Regions from separate parts of the Homo sapiens genome. Here region 2 is linked to region 1. Evidence: fine-mapped QTL for protein levels in blood plasma. Region 1 holds a variant in brackets. A gene starts in the other region. All regions are shown on their forward strands. Region 1 overlaps CPN1 (carboxypeptidase N subunit 1). Region 2 holds the start of IL27 (interleukin 27).

The links. PIP is the posterior inclusion probability: the model's chance that the variant is causal. Protein levels are from antibody-based Olink assays in UK Biobank. Linkage for the fine-mapping came from a reference panel and not from the study's own genotypes, which makes the PIPs less certain.
Region 2: it holds the start of IL27, and the variant in region 1 is fine-mapped to the plasma level of the IL27 protein (UK Biobank, PIP 0.98).

The regions. Positions count from the first base shown.
Region 1 is chr10:100,066,009-100,074,337 of GRCh38, forward strand. CPN1 (carboxypeptidase N subunit 1) reads right to left here. Exons shown (of 9, transcript NM_001308.3): 3 at 3,706-3,861. Among named protein-coding and RNA genes, the nearest start is that of CPN1, 12 kb to the right of the region's middle. The variant C/T (reference allele first, on the strand shown) is at 3,749.
Region 2 is chr16:28,498,910-28,507,224 of GRCh38, forward strand. It overlaps IL27 (interleukin 27), which reads right to left and starts at 7,925. Exons shown (of 5, transcript NM_145659.3): 1 at 7,872-7,925; 2 at 4,969-5,141; 3 at 4,786-4,884; 4 at 3,067-3,225; 5 at 453-1,011. The coding sequence starts at 7,902. The coding sequence ends at 742. APOBR (apolipoprotein B receptor) reads left to right here. Exons shown (of 4, transcript NM_018690.4): 4 at 1-55. RefSeq lists enhancers at 354-854, 855-1,355.

The DNA of each region.
Region 1 (8,329 bases):
GCAGTGGTGCAATCTCAGTTCATTGCAGCCTCCACCTCCCGGACTCAAGCGATCCTCCTACCTCAGCCTCCCTAGTAGCTGGGACTACAGGCATGCAACACCACACCTGGCTAATTTTTGTATTTTTTGTAGAGATGGGGTTTTGCCATGTTACTGAGGCTGGTCTTGAGCTCCTCAAGCAATGTGCCCATCTCCACCTCCCAAAGTGTTGGGATTACAGGCGTGAGCCACCATTCCCAGCCAAAAAAGAGAAGTTCTGTATGAAGAGATATCATGATTGGAGAGCTCAGAGCCCCAACTTGGCCTCTCTCTGGACCCTAGAAAAGGGTTTCCCATTTTACCCACTGCTCCAGTGACTTCTAAGTCATCTTAGCAGAAATTTAGGACTCCAATAAATCAATCTTAAAAATGCTAGTTTACAGTGATGGTTTTCAACCTCCTTCCTCCCTGCTGTAATATTGACATGTAGAACACACTCCTGTGGTCAAATCCAAATTTCATGGGTTAGACATACTGTCAGATGGGCCAGTCTTGGCTAAGCAGTGAAATTCCACCTTTCTATTGCATATTATATTGCTAGTGAGTGACAATATTCCAAAGAAAGCCTTGAATCCACTGGGACTTGCAGTGTAAGTAAATAATTTACAGTCTACAGCATTTTTCCTCCTCTCAGGATGAACAAGTTTAGAGATTATGTAGTGTTACTGTGTTAATGGCTCCTTCTGGACCAAGGTCAGCTCTACAGGCTCCATCTTTTCCATCCCAAGGGGACTGGATAAATAGGGTTGAGTCTTAATCAGAATGAATATAATTGCGAGGGCACCAGTCTTGGTCTGTGACCAGGGCTCAGACCCTCTGGGGCAGTTCTGTCTTTGTGTCCTAAGCCTCTATCAGAACAAGGCCAGCTTTTCACTGTTCCTCTTCCTCAAGGATATTCCATCAGGAGCGAGGGAAACCTCTTTGCTTTTCCCCCTAAAATTTAGACAGAGGATTGAGTGGGAGCCTAGTTATCATTGATTCAATTACCTTATTTTACTTAGAGAAACAAGTTTATTACATCAGAACATTCTTCTGGTTGGATATCCTGACTAACACGAAGTTCTTTGCTTTTTGGTTTTGGTTTTGGTTTTTTTGTGAGATGGAGTCTTGATCTGTCGCCCAGACTAGAGTGCAGTGATGCCATCTGCAACCTCCGCCATCTGGGTTCAAGCAATTCTCCTGCTTCAGCCTCCCAAGTAGCTGGGATTATAGGCGCCCACCACCACAGCTGGCTAATTTTTGTATTTTTAGTAGGATGGGGTTTCACCATGTTAGCCAGGCTGGTCTCGAACTCCTGACCTCAGCTGATCTGCCCGCTTCTGCCTCCCAAAGTGCTGGGATTACAGGTGTGAGCCACTGCGCCCAGCCTTACAAAGTTATTTTTTATTTACTATTTACTTGAACCAAGAGGATAGTTGCTGTTTGAAATCTAACATGTCAGCATGGCTTTTGCTTCATTTTCAAGGGAGAAAAAAACCCCAGAATACTCCATTTGGGAAACTCCCAATTAAAAGGCTTACACCTGCTTTGCTTTTCTTTCCCCAGTCTCTAAATTTAGACATTCACAAATAGAACATTTCAAACTATCCCACACAGCGTGATCACCAGGGGTGGCAGTGATGCTTAGAGAATGCCTAGTTATTTTCAGGAGCAGGCCCACCAGCAGGGTGAAACCACTCACATTACCAAGGACTTCCATTATAGGCCTCTTGGAGAGTGAGGCCTAGGAATATGGAATGGGATCCTCTGATTGGAAGAGTAAGGGAAATCAGGGAGGGTATAGTAATGATAAAGTAGTCAAAGGTCATATAGAAGGGGAAAAGGGGCCAGGTGTGGTGGCTCACACCTGTAATCCCAGCACTTTGGGAGGCTGAGGTGGGCAGATCACAAGGCCAGGAGTTCGAGACCAGCCTGACCAACATGGTAAAACCCTGTCTCTACTAAAAATACAAAAATTGGCCAGGGGTGGTGGCACGTGCCTGTAATCCCAGCTACTCAGGAGACTGAGGCAGGAGAATCGCTTGAACCCAGGAGGAAGAGGTTGCAGTGAGCCAAGATTGTGCCACTGCACTCCAGCCTGGAGGGTAAAAGAGCAAGACTCTGTCTCAAAAAAAAAAAAAAAGAAAGAAAGGGAAAAGAAAAAACTAAGGGTTAGATTCCCTGAACTTTTTTTTTTTTTTTTTTGAGACGGAGTCTCGCTCTGTCACCCAAGCTGGAGTGCAGTGGCACTATCTCAGCTCACTGCAACCTCTGCCTCCCAGGCTCATGCCATTCTCCTGCCTCAGCCTCCCAAGTAGCTGGGACTGCAGGCGCCCGCCACCACGCCTGGCTAATTTTTTGTATTTTTAGTAGAGATGGGGTTTCACCATGTTAGCCAGGATGGTCTCGATCTCCTGACCTCGTGATCCGCCCGCCTCGGCCTCCCAAAGTGCTGGGATTACAGGCGTGAGCCACCGCGCCCAGTCCCGAAAACTAAGGGTTAGATTCCTTGAACTTTTTTTTTGTTTGTTTGTTTTGGAGACAGGGTCTCTTGCTCTGTCACCCAGGCTGGAGCAGGCAGGACAATAGTTCACTGTAACCTTGAACTCTTAAACTCCTTCAAGGGATCCTCCCAAATAGCTAAGTCTATGACATGTGCCACTACACCCAGCTAAATTTTGTATTTTTATTTTGTAGAGATGGGGCCTCACTGTGTTGCCCAGGCTAGTCTCAAACTCCTGACCTCAAGCAATCCTCCCGTCTCAGCTTCCCAAAGTGCTGGGATTACAGGTGTGAGACACCACACCCAGCCTGAGCCTCTTTCTATAGCTAATTGTTGGTAAGCACACAGCTTATCACGAGTAAGACAGACGTCTCTATAGAATGCTTCTGTCCACAGTCTAGTGTAGTAGAAAGAATGTTGGAATAAGAATCAGAAGGCCTGCATCTTCATCCCGATTCCATCAATCACTACCTGTGAGAATGTAAATTATTTTCTCTCTAAGTGTAATAGCTATAAAACAGAGATGGATAACACTGCTTGGTGCATTTCACATGATGTCATGATCAACTGAAACTGGCTGTGAAATAATTCTGGAAAATTGTTAAGAACCATGCAACCAAATGATACTGCTTTCATATCCTTCACCACAATCACCACTAATATCAAACATTTAACCAGGCACGGTGGCTCACGCCTGTAATCCCAGCACTTTGGGAGGCTGAGGCAGGCAGATCACGAAGTCAGGAGTTTGAGACCAGCCTGGTCAAACGGTGAAACCCCGTCTCTACTAAAAATACAAAAATTAGCTGGGCATGGTGGTGTGCATCTTTAATCCCAGCTACTCAGGAGGCTGAGGCAGGAGAATCTCTTGGACCTGGGAGGCGAAGGCTGCAGTGAGCTGAGATCGCACCATTACACTCCAGCCTGGGCGACAGAGCGAGACTCTGTCTTAAAAAAAAAAAAAAATCACTTAGTGTGTGCTCCATGGAGGGCTCTATGCTGAGGAGAAAATAAATACAAAGACACGGAAGAAATATATATTATTGCTCTAGATGGGTTAATACTGAGTTGAGTTGATGCTTAATTCTTGCTTGTTTAGTTGATGTAAAGATGGCTTAGCAGTCTTTCTGCAAGAAATTCCAGATGCTGATTTACCTGCTTTGTTTGCAAATTTCATCTCCTACCTGACTTTTCCAGTTGTCTGGAAGGGGCAGGTGGTGGTTGGGG[C/T]CTCCGTACTTCTCGTTATAGTAGATATAGGTATTGAGATCAGGGAAGTTGCGGTTCAGGTCCACTCCATTTGCATTGTTCCTGCCAACTAGATACCCAGGCTTGTTTGGGCCCTAAAGGAAAATGAAAAGATGAAAAATGAAGGTTTCAGATTGAATACTATATTTTCTAACTTTTTTTTTTGGAGACAGGTTCTCACACTGTTGCCCAGGCTGAAGTGCAGTGGTACAATCTTGGCTTACTGCAACCTCTACCTACTGGGCTCAAGCAATCCTCCCACCTCAGTCTCCTGAGTAGCTGGGACTACAAGCACACACCACCACACCCGCTAATTGTTCTTTATTCTTTTCTTTTTTTGGTAGAGATGAGGCTGGTTGCCCAGGCTGGTATCAAACTCCTGGGCTCAAGTGATCCACCCACCTCGCCCTTCCAAAGTGCTGAGAGGCCAGGTGCAGTGGCTCACACCTGTAATCTCAGCACTTTGGGAGGCGGAGGCAGGTGGATCACTTGAGGTCAGAAGTTCAAGATCAGCCTGGCCAAAATGGTGAAACACCATCTCTACTAAAAAATACAAAAATTAGCTGGGTGTGGTGGCGTGTGCCTGTAGTCCCAGCTACTTGGGAGGCTGAGGCACGAGAATCACTTAAACTCAGGAAGTGAGGTTGCAATGGGCCAAGAACATGCCATTGCACTACAGCCTGGGTGACAGAGCAAGGCTCTGTCTAAAAAAAACAAACCAAACAAAGTGCTGAGATTACAGGCAAGAGCTACTACATGCAGCCATGAATCCTATATTTGAAGCACATTGTATAGTTCTTAGATATTAGCTTAATCAAATGATGTAGCATTTTTTTTCCTTTAGTCCCCGTCACAAGAAGATGAATCATTTTCTACTTTGACTTATCCAAAGTCACAGTGGTGGACTTCAAGTTCCCTGCAGATCACGTGTAAGAGGTACATATCTCAAGAGAAGTTCTAATAAGAGTAGGGTGTTTCGGGATCATGGGAACCCCAATGTTTTATGAACAGCTTTATTGAGATATAATTCACATACTATAAAATTTGCTCATTTTAAATGTACAATTCAATGAATTTTAGTATGTTTACGGAGTTGTATAATCATCATTGCAATCTAATTTTAGAACATTTCTGTCACACCAAATAGACACCTCATTCCCATTTACAGTCACTTCTCATTTTCATCCTAGCGTAGGTAATAACTTTATCTCTCCTTAGACTTGCCTCTTCTGGACAGATCACATAAGTGGGTCATACATTATCTGTTCTTTTGTGGGTTTTTCCCCCACACTGGGCATAATGTTTGTGAGGTTCATGTATGTTGTAGCATGTATCAGTACTTCATTTCTTTCTATTGCTGAATAGTTCCATTATGTGGATTTATCACATTTTGTTTATCCATTCACCAGTATTAGTATTAGTTTAATACTATTAGTATTAGGAAACTGTGTTAGTTTCCTAGGGCTGCCATAACAATCACCACAAACTAGGTGGTTTATAACAACAGCAATTTATTCTCCAATTTATTCTCTGGAGGCTAGAAGTTGTAATCAAGTCAACTGGATGGGCGGCACGCTCTCTGGTCCCCTTCTTTGTTTCTTCCAGGTTCTGGTGGCCAGAGGAAGTCCTTGGCATTCTTTGGCTCTTAGACCCATCACTCTAATTTCTGCTTTCATCTTCATATGGCCTCCTCCCCAGTCTGTCTGCATCTCTATTCGCAAATTTCTTTCTTCTTACAAGGACACCAGTTATGCTGGATTTAGAGTCCATCCTGATTCTAGGTGACCTCATCTCAATTGTATCCGTAAAGACCCTCAGTAGGCCCTCCATATCCATGGGTTCCACATGTGTGGATTCAACCAACCTCTGATTGAAAATGTAGTTAGGCCTATGATGGTTGCATCTGTACTGAATATGTACATACTTTTTTCTTGTCATTATTCCTTAAACAGTACATTATAACAACTGTTTACATAGCATTTACATTGTACTGGGTAACATAAGTAACCTAGGGATGATTTAAAGTATACAGGAGGATGTGCATAAGTTATGTGCAAATACTATGCCATTTTATATAAGGGACTTGAGCATCCAAGGATTTTGATATTGGTGGGGGGCCCTGGAATCAATCACCTACGGATACTGAAGGATGACTATGTATTTCCAAATAAGATCATAGTCACAGATTTCAGGTGAATGCGAATTTTGGCGAAGGGTGGTAGGGGGAGATTCATGGACATTTGGGTTGTTTTCACCTTTTGGCTATTGTTAATAATGCTGCTTTGAACATCCACGTACAAGTCTTTGTGTGGATGTATGTTTTCATTTCCTCTGGGTAGATATCTGTAAGTAGAACTGCCGAGTCATAAGCTAAGTCCATGTTTAACTGTTTTTTGTTGTTTGTTTTTGTTTTTGTTTTGAGACAGGGTCTCACTCTGTTGCCTAGGCTGGAGTATAACAGCATGATCATGGCTCACTGCAGCCTCAACCTCCTGGGCTCAGGTGATCCTCCCACCTCAGCCTCCTGGTAGCTGGTGTTTACAGGCACGCGCCACAACACCTGGCTAATTTTAAATTATTTGTAAAGATGGGGTTTTGCCATGTTGCCTACGCTGGTCTCAAACTTCTAGGCTCAAGTGATCCACCCACCTCCCAAAGTGCTGGGATTAACAGACGTGAGCCACTACGGCCTTATGTTTAACTTTTTGAGAAACTGTTAAACTGTTTTTCAAAGTGGTTACACTATGGAAACTCACTCCTCCCCCCTTCAAAAAATTTAGGATGCTTACTTATCTTTCTTTTGAGCAATATCAACTTTCTGGATCCCTTAATTTCTCTGTCCATATTTCAGATTTTATCATTTATTTGCTCATGTATTCACTCACTCATTAGGTCATCTATTTAGTCAACCAACATTTACTTAAGTCCTTCTCTATTCAGAGCTCTCAGATAGACACTGGGGAAAGAGATAAGTGAGACATTGTAGTCTAGCCTTCTAGGAATTCATAGTACACATGGGGAGATGGACACACACATAAATAATTAAATACATAGAGTGATAGAATAGAGATATGTTAAAAGGCTCATTCAAAATTGAAATTCCATTTAATGTTTTGTGTGGCATTGGAGAAGGGAAATAGTGCCAACTGGGTCCCTGTAGACTGAGAAGGTGGAGCCCAAATTGTTGGCTGTTCCTGGAAGTGAATGAATGGATGCCGGGAAGCTACAATCTCACAGATGAATCGCCGTTCTCATATTTTCCCTTTTCTAACCAATAAAATGCGGCAGATTACATTTTTTTCTAAGAATTCAGTATTATTCTCAGATTTCTCCTCTTTTCATGGCACCCTGCTTGTATTTCATTTTTAGATCCTATTGAAAACATAATTGTTTTGAAGTTCCTTTAAGTTTCCTACATCAGTTGTGTTCCAGTGGAAAACATTTATTGGATCTTTCATTTTGGTGTACACTTCTGTGACATAATGATTTTCTTTATGCTTCCAGGGGCTTGTCACTGCTTGCTTATTTATATCAAGGCAACTCTTGACTGTCAGCATAAACAGCTATGGGCATTATCCACTGATTTCCCTGCACACTGGTCAATAGTTAAGTTGGCAGGAAGGGGCTTCCCCTAACAGAAGGTTTCATAAACAGGGCTAGTGTTGTGTTTCCTATTACTGCTGTAACAAATTACCCCAAATTTAGTGGTTTAAAACAGCACGAGTGTATTGTCTCATAGTTTTGGAGGTCAGAAGACTAAAACGGGTCTCACAGGCCTAAAAGCAAGGTGTCTCTCCAGTTTCTAGAGATCATTCACATTCCTTGGCTCTTCCATCTTTTTTTTTTTTTTTTTTTTTTGAGACAGAGTTTTGCTCTTGTTGCCCAGGCTGGAGTGCAATGGCGTGATCTCAGCTCACCGCAACCTTCATCTCCCAGGTTCAAGTGATTCTCCTGCCTCAGCCTCCCGAGTAGCTGGGATTACAGGCATGTGTTACCACGCCTGGCTAATTTTGTATTTTTAGTAGAGACAGGGTTTCTCCATGTTGGTCAGGCTGGTCTTGAACTTCTGACCTCAGGTGATCCTCCTACTTCAGCCTCCCAAAGTGCTGGGATTACAGGCCTGAGCCACGGCGCCCAGCCAAGGCTCTTCCATCTTTAAAGCCAGCCGTGTAACATCTTCAGAGCTCTCTCTGACTGTGACCTTTGGCCTCCCTCTTCTACATTTAAAGGACCCTCGTAATTGATTACACTGGGCCCCATCCCCCCCCCACAATACTCCAGGTTATTTTAAGGTCAACTGATTAGCAACCTTAGTTCCATCTGCAACCTTAATTCCTCCTTGCCCAGTAACATAACATATTCATAGGTTCTGAGGATTAGGACATGGACATCTTTGGTGGGGGGCATTATTCTGGCCACCTACAAGTGGCTTCAAAGTCTGGTGGCCAGGAAGTTCTTCTCTGTGTAGCCACGCAGACAGCTTGCCTCTGGGCATGGCAGGTATCTCTGAGAGTCTGAGAACCTGATGGGTCCTCTCGGGTTCAGGTTCAAGATCTGCTCCCT
Region 2 (8,315 bases), not on the chromosome of region 1:
CCCATCTTTTAAAAACAAAATAAAACAATAAAGACTGCAAGGAAGACTGAGGGAACAGCGACCATTTTCCTTACAGGCCTTCCTCTCTAACTCCCACTTCCCAGCCCAACTCCCTGCACCAAGACCCTCAGAACTGGGCGGGGATAACACAAACCTCTGGAGCTGCATCCAGGCCAAAGGAAGGCGGTTGGGAGGGCTTAAGGAGCACTGTTCAGAATCAGAGATGAGCTGCCTTGAGCTTCCAACACGGTAGCTCGGCCTCAGGATGCTGCTGGTTACTATGGCAACTGCCTGCCGGAGCAGGACATAGTAGGGGAAGGTGGGCCAGAGACCCCAAAAATGTAGGAGCAGAGAGGGGTTCAGGATGGCTAGAGGTTGCTGACCCCGTTCCAGGCTGCCCTGCCCTCTGGGTGTCAGACAGCCCTTACCCGAAGAGAAGCGGAGGCCAGGGGTGGATGAGAGTGCTTTATTGGGCACCCAGCATGGGGGCTTGGCCCGAGGAGGACCATCGGGCCCCAAGACAATAAATAAACCATCATCTCCCTAAACAATAAATAAATATCCAAGAAATAAATAGCTGGCGAGGACCAGAGGGGCTTTCAGTTACTGGGTAGAGCCTGGGGCAGGGGGCTGGAAGAGCCCTCCCTTGTCCAAGGCTGATGATGCGAAGGCTGCCCTGATGCCAAGACTCCAGTCCTAAAGTTCTAAAGGGTGGGGGGCAGGGGGCTAAGAAGCCACCGATCAGGGCTGGGGGCTCAATGTTGGGAACCCCAAGGGCCAGACTGAGTGCCCAGCCTTGGACAGCAGCAGCAACTCCCGCACGGCCCGAGATAAGACGAGCTCCAAGGAGTGCAGCAGGCGGTAGGTGGAGAGGAGCTGGGGCCAGGACACCTGGGCCGGGCCCTGTAAGGCGCTGCCCAGTGCCCCTGGGAGCAGCCCCTTCCTCTCCTCCTCCTCCTCCTCCTCTTCCTCCTCCTCCTCCTCCGGGAGGTTGAATCCTGCAGCCAGCACCTGTGAGGAGAGGCCATGGGTCAGGGAGGGGCCAGGCCGAGAACCTGAGAGGAATCCTCATTCCCTATTCATGCCCAGCGGTTCCCAATGACATCAGTGACCACAAGGTCATGATTTCCCCGGACATTCCCTGCTTGATCTTCCATGATGTCACCTGCTAACGCGTCTCACCTGATCTTTCAGTTCGAGAAAATGGAAGTCAAGGAGCAAGAGGATGCTCACAGAGCTAGATCACCCCAAGGACTGCCCCGAGGCGTGGGGTTCAGGAAGTTTCTCTCTGCTGTGAAAGTTGCTTTTGGGTCGGGTCAGCAACAGGCAGAGGGTGACATAGCTCAGATTCCCTGCTGCTTGCCATTCCTCTCTCTCTCTCTTTCTTGGGAGCCCCGCTCTGTCGCCCAGGCTGGAGTGCAGTGGGGTGATCACGGCTCACTGCAACCTCTGTCTCCCCAGTTCAAGCAATTCTCCTACCTCAGCCTCCTGAGTAGCTGGGACTACAGACGCGCACCACCACGCCCGACTAATTTTTGTATTTTTAGTAGAGATGGGGTTTTACCATGTTGGCCAGGCTGGTCTCGAACTCCTGACCTCAAATGATCCACCCGCTTTGGCCTCCTAAAGTGCTGGGATTCCAGGCGTGAGCCACCACGCCCAGCCCTGCTGCTTGCATTTTCTATTCTCATTTCATTAAGTGTAAAATTCTGATTTCCCTTTGAAAGGTTCTGGAGGATCTGGGTGACATCAGAGAATCAGAGGGAGAAAGGAAACAGGAGGCAGACGCTGTGCTGGGCACTCAGGACACACCCCGAGTGACCTCACAGCCCAATGGCCTCCTGTTGAAGATAGAGCCCCAGGAGAATGTGAAGATTGAGGGGCAGCACCAGGGCCTGGTGTGGCTGTGTGTGCGCCTGCACACACGCACACACTCACACACATACTCATTCTCACAACGCACCCACACTCATTCCCATACAGTCACATTCACACAAAACACATTCATGGCTGGGCACAGTGGCTCACGCCTGTAATCCCAGCACTTTGGGAAGCCGAGGCGGGCAGAGCGCGAGGTCAGGAGTCTGAGACCAGCCTGGCCAACATGGTGAAACTAAAAATACAAAAAAATTAGCCAGGCATGATGGTGCACGCCTGTAGTCCTAGCTACTCAGGAGGCTGAGGCAGGAGAATTGCTTGAACCTGGGAGGCAGATGTTACAGTGAGCTGAGATCGCACCGCTGCACTCCAGCCTGGGCGACAGAGTGAGACTTAGTCTCAGAAAAAAAAAAAAATCGTTCACGTACCCACATACTCTCACACTCACACTCATCCTCACACACTGACATACCTATACCCAAACTCTCACCCACACACCTCACTTTCACACTCACAACACTCACATTCACACACCCACCCACACACTCCCACACTCTTACACTCACAGTCCCATACACTCACAGTCTCACACTCATGGACCTACACACACACGGTCACGCTCACACTCATACAGACCCACACACACTCACAGTCACACCCACACACTCACACACTCACAGCCACACACTTTCACACTCAGACCCACACACTCACAGTCACACTCACACACGGACGCACATACACACAGTCATGCTCACACTCATACAGCCCCCCCACACACACACTCACAGTCACACCCACACACTCTCACAGTCAGGTACACTCACACAGACCCACACACTCACTCTCACACTCACGGACCCACACCCTCACACACAGTCATGCTCACACTCATACAGACCCACATGCACTCACAGTCACTCCCACACACTCTCACACTCACAGACCCACACTCACACACTCTCACAGTCACACTGTCACACTCATGGACCCACACAGTCACACTCACTCTCCCACACTTACGGACCCACACAGTCACTCTCACACTCATGAACCCACACACTCATGGACACTCAGTCACACTCACACTCTCACACTCACACACACTCAGAGCATGGGATCACTGAATGAGCCAGCGAGTCTTCTTTCCCACGTGGTCTGGGGTGGTGGAGGGTGGCCGGGCTCTACCTGGAAGCGGAGGTGCCGCTGCAGATCGCGGAGGTCCAGCCTCATGGCCCACAGCTGCATCCTCTCCATGTTGGTCCAGCGGCCCTGGGTCCCCAGCCCTCCCAGCAGGGCATGGAAGGGCTGAAGCGTGGTGGAGATGAAGCAGAGACGCTCCGGGTCCTGAAGGGGAGGGAGATGGTCAGGAAAGGTCCACAGGCCAAGGATGGCCATATCACACCCACCCCCTCCCTATCCGGGTCTCCTTCCCATTCCACGCTCCAGCCTCCAGTCCATCCCTGTAGCTCTTCCCCCACCTCAGCCCAGCTGTGTCCCCATTCCTTCCATCTCCACTGTCTGGGACATTTGTCCCATCTCCTTTTCCAGCCTCCCTTTCACTCCTATGCCAATGATCTTCTCTAACCCACCCCCTCTCAGTCCCTGAAGCACTCTCCATCCACAGCCCTGTTCCCTTCCCTCCTCCACCATCCCATCATACCTCCTGCCCATGTGTTTCCATCCCATCTTCAGCCTCATTCCCATTCCTAACCCCAACTCCATCCTTCCTCCATGTGCCCAGACTCACTCTTTCCATCTTTCCATCCCATCTCCAACCTCATTCCTAACCCTATTCCATTCCCTTCCCCACCAGCAATCCCCATCCCTTCTCCATCCCATGCTTAACGTTCACCCTCATCATCACCTTCTCATCTCTAACTATCCGCATTCTCACCCCCAGTGCCACCTCCACCCACCCTCCATGCTGCTGTGATCTGTCTCCAGCCTCATTCCAGTCCCATGCCTGCCGCGTTCCATGCCTAGCTCCACTCTTACCTCTTCCCAACCCCACTTCCTTATTCCAGCTTCATCTTTATTGTTGGTTTGTTTTGAGATGGAGTCTCGCTCTGTTGCCCAGGCTGGAGTGCAGTGGCGCGATCTCATCTCACTGCAACCTCCACCTCCTGGGTTCAAGTAATTCTCCTGCCTCAGCCTCCCGAGTAGCTGGGATTACAGGCGCACAGCACCATACCCGGCTAATTTGGTATTTTTAGTAGAGGTGGGGTTTCTTCATGTTGGTCAGGCTGGTCTCGAACTCCTGACCTCAGGTGATCCACCCACATCAGCCTCCCACAGTGCTGGGATTACAGTCGTGAGCCACTGCGCTCAGCTAATTTTTGTATTTTTTAGTAGAGATGGGGTTTCGCCATGTTGGCCAGGCTGGTCTTGAACTCTTGACCTCAGGTGATCCGTGCTCCTCAGCCTCCCAACGTGCTGGGATTACAGGCATGAGCCACCACGCCTGGCAGTTTATTTATTTTTCTGAGACAGGGTTTCCCTCTGTTCTCCATCCTGGAGTCCAGGATCATAACTCACTGCAGCCTCCAACTCCTGAGCTCAAGCAATCCTCCCATGTCAGCCTCCTGAGTAGCTGGGACCAAAGGTGTACACCACCATGCCTGGCTAACTCTTAAATTTTTTTTTGTAGAGACAAAGTTTCACTATGTTGCCCAGACTGGTCTTGAACTCCTGGCCTCAAGCAGTCCTTCCACCTGGGCCTCCCAAAGTGCTGGGTTTATAGGTGTAAGTCACCATGCCTGTCTTTCATCTCTATGTCCAATGACATATTCAGCCTTATCCAGGTTCTATCCCCAATGCATCTCCAGCTCAATCTCCAGCCTCATCTTGCACCCTGGCCCCAGCCTATCACAAGCTTCCCGCCCCACTCCACCAGCCCTCACTCACAGAGAGGCGGCGCCAGGCCTGGAAGGTCAGGGAAACATCAGGGAGCTGCTCTCCCAGGGGCAGGAGGTACAGGTTCACTCCTGGCAGGTGAGATTCCGCCTGGGGGGCAAGGTCTGTTAGTGGGGGCCAGAAGGGATTGGGGGTCTGCCCATCTCCAGCGCCAGCTGCATTAGGGGGACTTACAAAGCGGTGGGCCTGGCCCCGAACCTCGGAGAGCAGCTTCCTGGCGAGATGCAGGCTGACTGTGAACTCCCTCCGCAGCTCCTGCAGGCTCAGCTGGGGCCTCCCTGGGGGCCTTGGGAATCCCCAGACACCAGCTTGAACCAGGAGCAAGGGAAGCAGCAACAGGCTGAGCCCTGGAGAGATGGGAAGAGGGTGGCAAGACAGGGAGAGAGCTTGAGAAGGAAGGGAACATGCCTTTTCTGAGCCTGTGCTAGCTGTGAGCACGGTGCAGGCACTTTGACCAGCATCATTCCTCTGCCTCCTCAAAACCACAATGGAGGCTGGGTGCGGTGACTCACACCTGTAATCCCAACAATTTAGGAGACCGAGGCGGGCGGATCACCTGAGGCCAGGAGTTCAAGACCAGCCTGGCCAACATGGCGAAACCCTGTCTCTACTAAAAATACAAAAATTAGTTGGGCGTGGTGGTGCATGCCTGTAATCCCAGCTACTCAGGAGGTTGAGGCAGGAGAATCGCTTGAACCTGGGAGGCAGAGGCTGCAGTGAGCTAACACCACTGTGCTCCAGCCTGGGCGACAGAGCCAGACTCTGTCTCAAAAAAACAAAACAAAACAAAACAAAACAAAACCCCACGATGCAGCCAGCACGGCCCCCATATGGCATCTCCGCATGGTGTGCCCACTTTTGCAAAAAGACCAGAAGCCTGATCCTTTTTTTTTTTTTTTGAAACAGAGTTCTGTTCTATCACCCAGCCTGGAGTGTAGTGGTGTGATCACAGCTCACTGTAGCCTTGAACTCCTAGGCTCAAGTGATCCTCTCGCCTCAGCCTCCCAAGTAGCTGGGATCACAGGGACACACCACTGTGCCTAACTGTTTCTATTTTTTTGTAGAGACAGGGTCTCACTATGTTGCCCAGGCTGGTCTTGAACTCCTGGCCTCAAGAGATCTTCCCGCCTCAGCCTCCCAAATTGCTGGGATCACAGGCATGAGCCACTGTGCCGGGACAGAGACTGGATTTTGACCCCCATAAACTCCCTTGGCCAAATGCCTTTTTCAGTGAGCAACCTGCACAACCACGTGTGGCAGCCTCAGTGCTATTGTTCTCCCCAATTTGCAGGTGAGGCTCAGTGAGGTTGACTTGCCCAAGGTCAAATAGCCAGAAGGTGGGAAGCCAGGACTGGATTCCAGGTTTTTCCAAATGCAGAGCCCATGGGTTTTCCCCAGAGAATGCAGAGGGAGGCAGCCATCTGCCCCAGGAGTGGGCACACCATGTTCTGGCAAGGATTCTTTGGGCTCAGCCAAGCGGCTCTGATGGCTTGAACTGGCCATGAGGTCCCCAGGGATGGGCTGGCAATGCCAGAGGCTCTATTCCAGGGAGTCAAAAGGACAGGTTTGTCCAGTTTCCACCACGGCAGGTGGATCCTAGCAGGGTAACCTGCCTGGGGCGAATCCACAGTATGGGAGCTTTTTTTTTTTTAAGACAGATTCTCACTCTGTCACCCAGGCTGCAGTGCAGTGGCGCGATCTCGACTCACTGCAACCTTCACCTCCCAGGTTAAAGCAATTCTCCTGCCTCAGCCTCCTGAGTAGCCACCACGCCTGGCTAATTTTTATTATATTTAGTAGAGAGGGGTTTTGCCGTGTTGGCCAGGCTGGTCTCCAACTCCTGACCTCAGGTGATCCGCCTGCCTTGGCCTCCCAAAGTGCTGGGATTACAGACATCAGCCACTGCGCCCAGCCCAGAATGGCTGAATTCCGAGTGTGCTTCCTGACCTGTGTTTTCCTGGAAAGAGGGGCAGCGGATGGGCGCTCTAGGAAGAGGGCAGCATTCATCAATTTCCCCCTCAGGGAGAGGAAATCTAGCAAGCACAAGAGTTACACAATTCTCCTCGAAACACAAACCAAAACTGGCCCGAAGTCCATCCTGCTCTCCCTTCTCTCCCTGCCTCTTCCCTGTCCTCTCTCAATCTCTAACCCCTGGGCTCTGCTCTTCGAAATGTCCCCTGATAAAGGTGAAGGGGAGCTTCTAGGGACATCTACCTCCCTCGTGGGCTTGCAGATGTGGTGGGCGATGCCTAACGTAAGATCTCTGGCATTCAGACTCCCTGGTTTTGGGGCCACTCGGACCCTCTGACATCCTGGAGACTTAAGGCAGAGTGGGGTTCTTCCTAGCTCAATGTTGGGGACAGGGTGGGTGCCCCCAGGCCCTGGTGGATCAAGCCCAACCGTAAGTGAGCTGTGCCATCTCCAACCTGACCTCTGGAGACCCCAGACCCCCTCCTTACCCTCTGCAGCTGATCCTGGGTCATTGGCTCTGGCCTTTGAAGGCTCTGTCTCCATCCTCCAGCCTTTGGTCCCTACCTGCCCTACGTGGCATGTTACCTTCTCCACTGCCTACTGCTCTGGTTCTAGCCCCTGAGTTCTGCAGCCACCAGCCGCAGATTGGACCTCTTTCCAACATCAAACTAAAGACCTTTGACCCAGTGAGGCTGCTGACATCTTGGTCCCAGTGCTCCACTTGTGCCAGCACCTCGTTCTGCTCTTCCTCCAGCCGGCCCCATTCTCAGTCTTAGCCAAGCTGTTTGGCTTCTGCTTATTCACTCCAAACTCTTCATTTATCTGCCTAGACCTGGTCCTTGTCAAATTGCTGGTCCAACCCTCCCCATTCCCACTAGCCAAGGCCTCCTTCTCATCCTCTGCCCAGCCCTGGGTCAGACCACCACCCCACTGCCCCAGGCCCCCACCCAGTCATGCCAGCCTCCCTTCCCATGCAGCAGCCAGCCGAATCCTCAGTCTTGGCCAAGTTGCTGCTCTCAGCTCTCGACCCCCCATCTGCACCAGCCAAGCTCGTCCATTCTCTGCCCAAACTCAACCAAGCCCCCCACCCCTGGCTTCAAACTCACGCCAGCCAAGGTCGCCTGCCGTCTGGCCCATGGCGGGGCCCAGCCTCTTTGGTCAGCCATCTCCTGGGTAGGGGGGGTCTTATACTGGGGGCTGTGCCCGGTTTCACTTTCCGTCCTGCTTGTACTTTCAGCTTTGTGTTCACTCATTCTTCCCTCTCGCCACCCCTTGCTAAAATGGGGAAATGTAATTTCCCTTCCCGGAGGGGGTGGGAGGTATGATGGGGGGTGACGGGAAGCTGGGGTTTCGGGACATCCAAGCTCCAGACTCACTGCTAAGCTCCCACGTCCAGCCCTGTCCTCAATGTCCCATGCTTGGGTGAGCCATCCAGCCCTATTCACTGGTTGATCCCAGAGTCCCAAACCCCCTCCTGATTCTCGGCTCTGCCACCATCATCCTAGGGTCTACTGTCCTTCCAAAGATGGATAGCCAGGTAAGGGGATTGC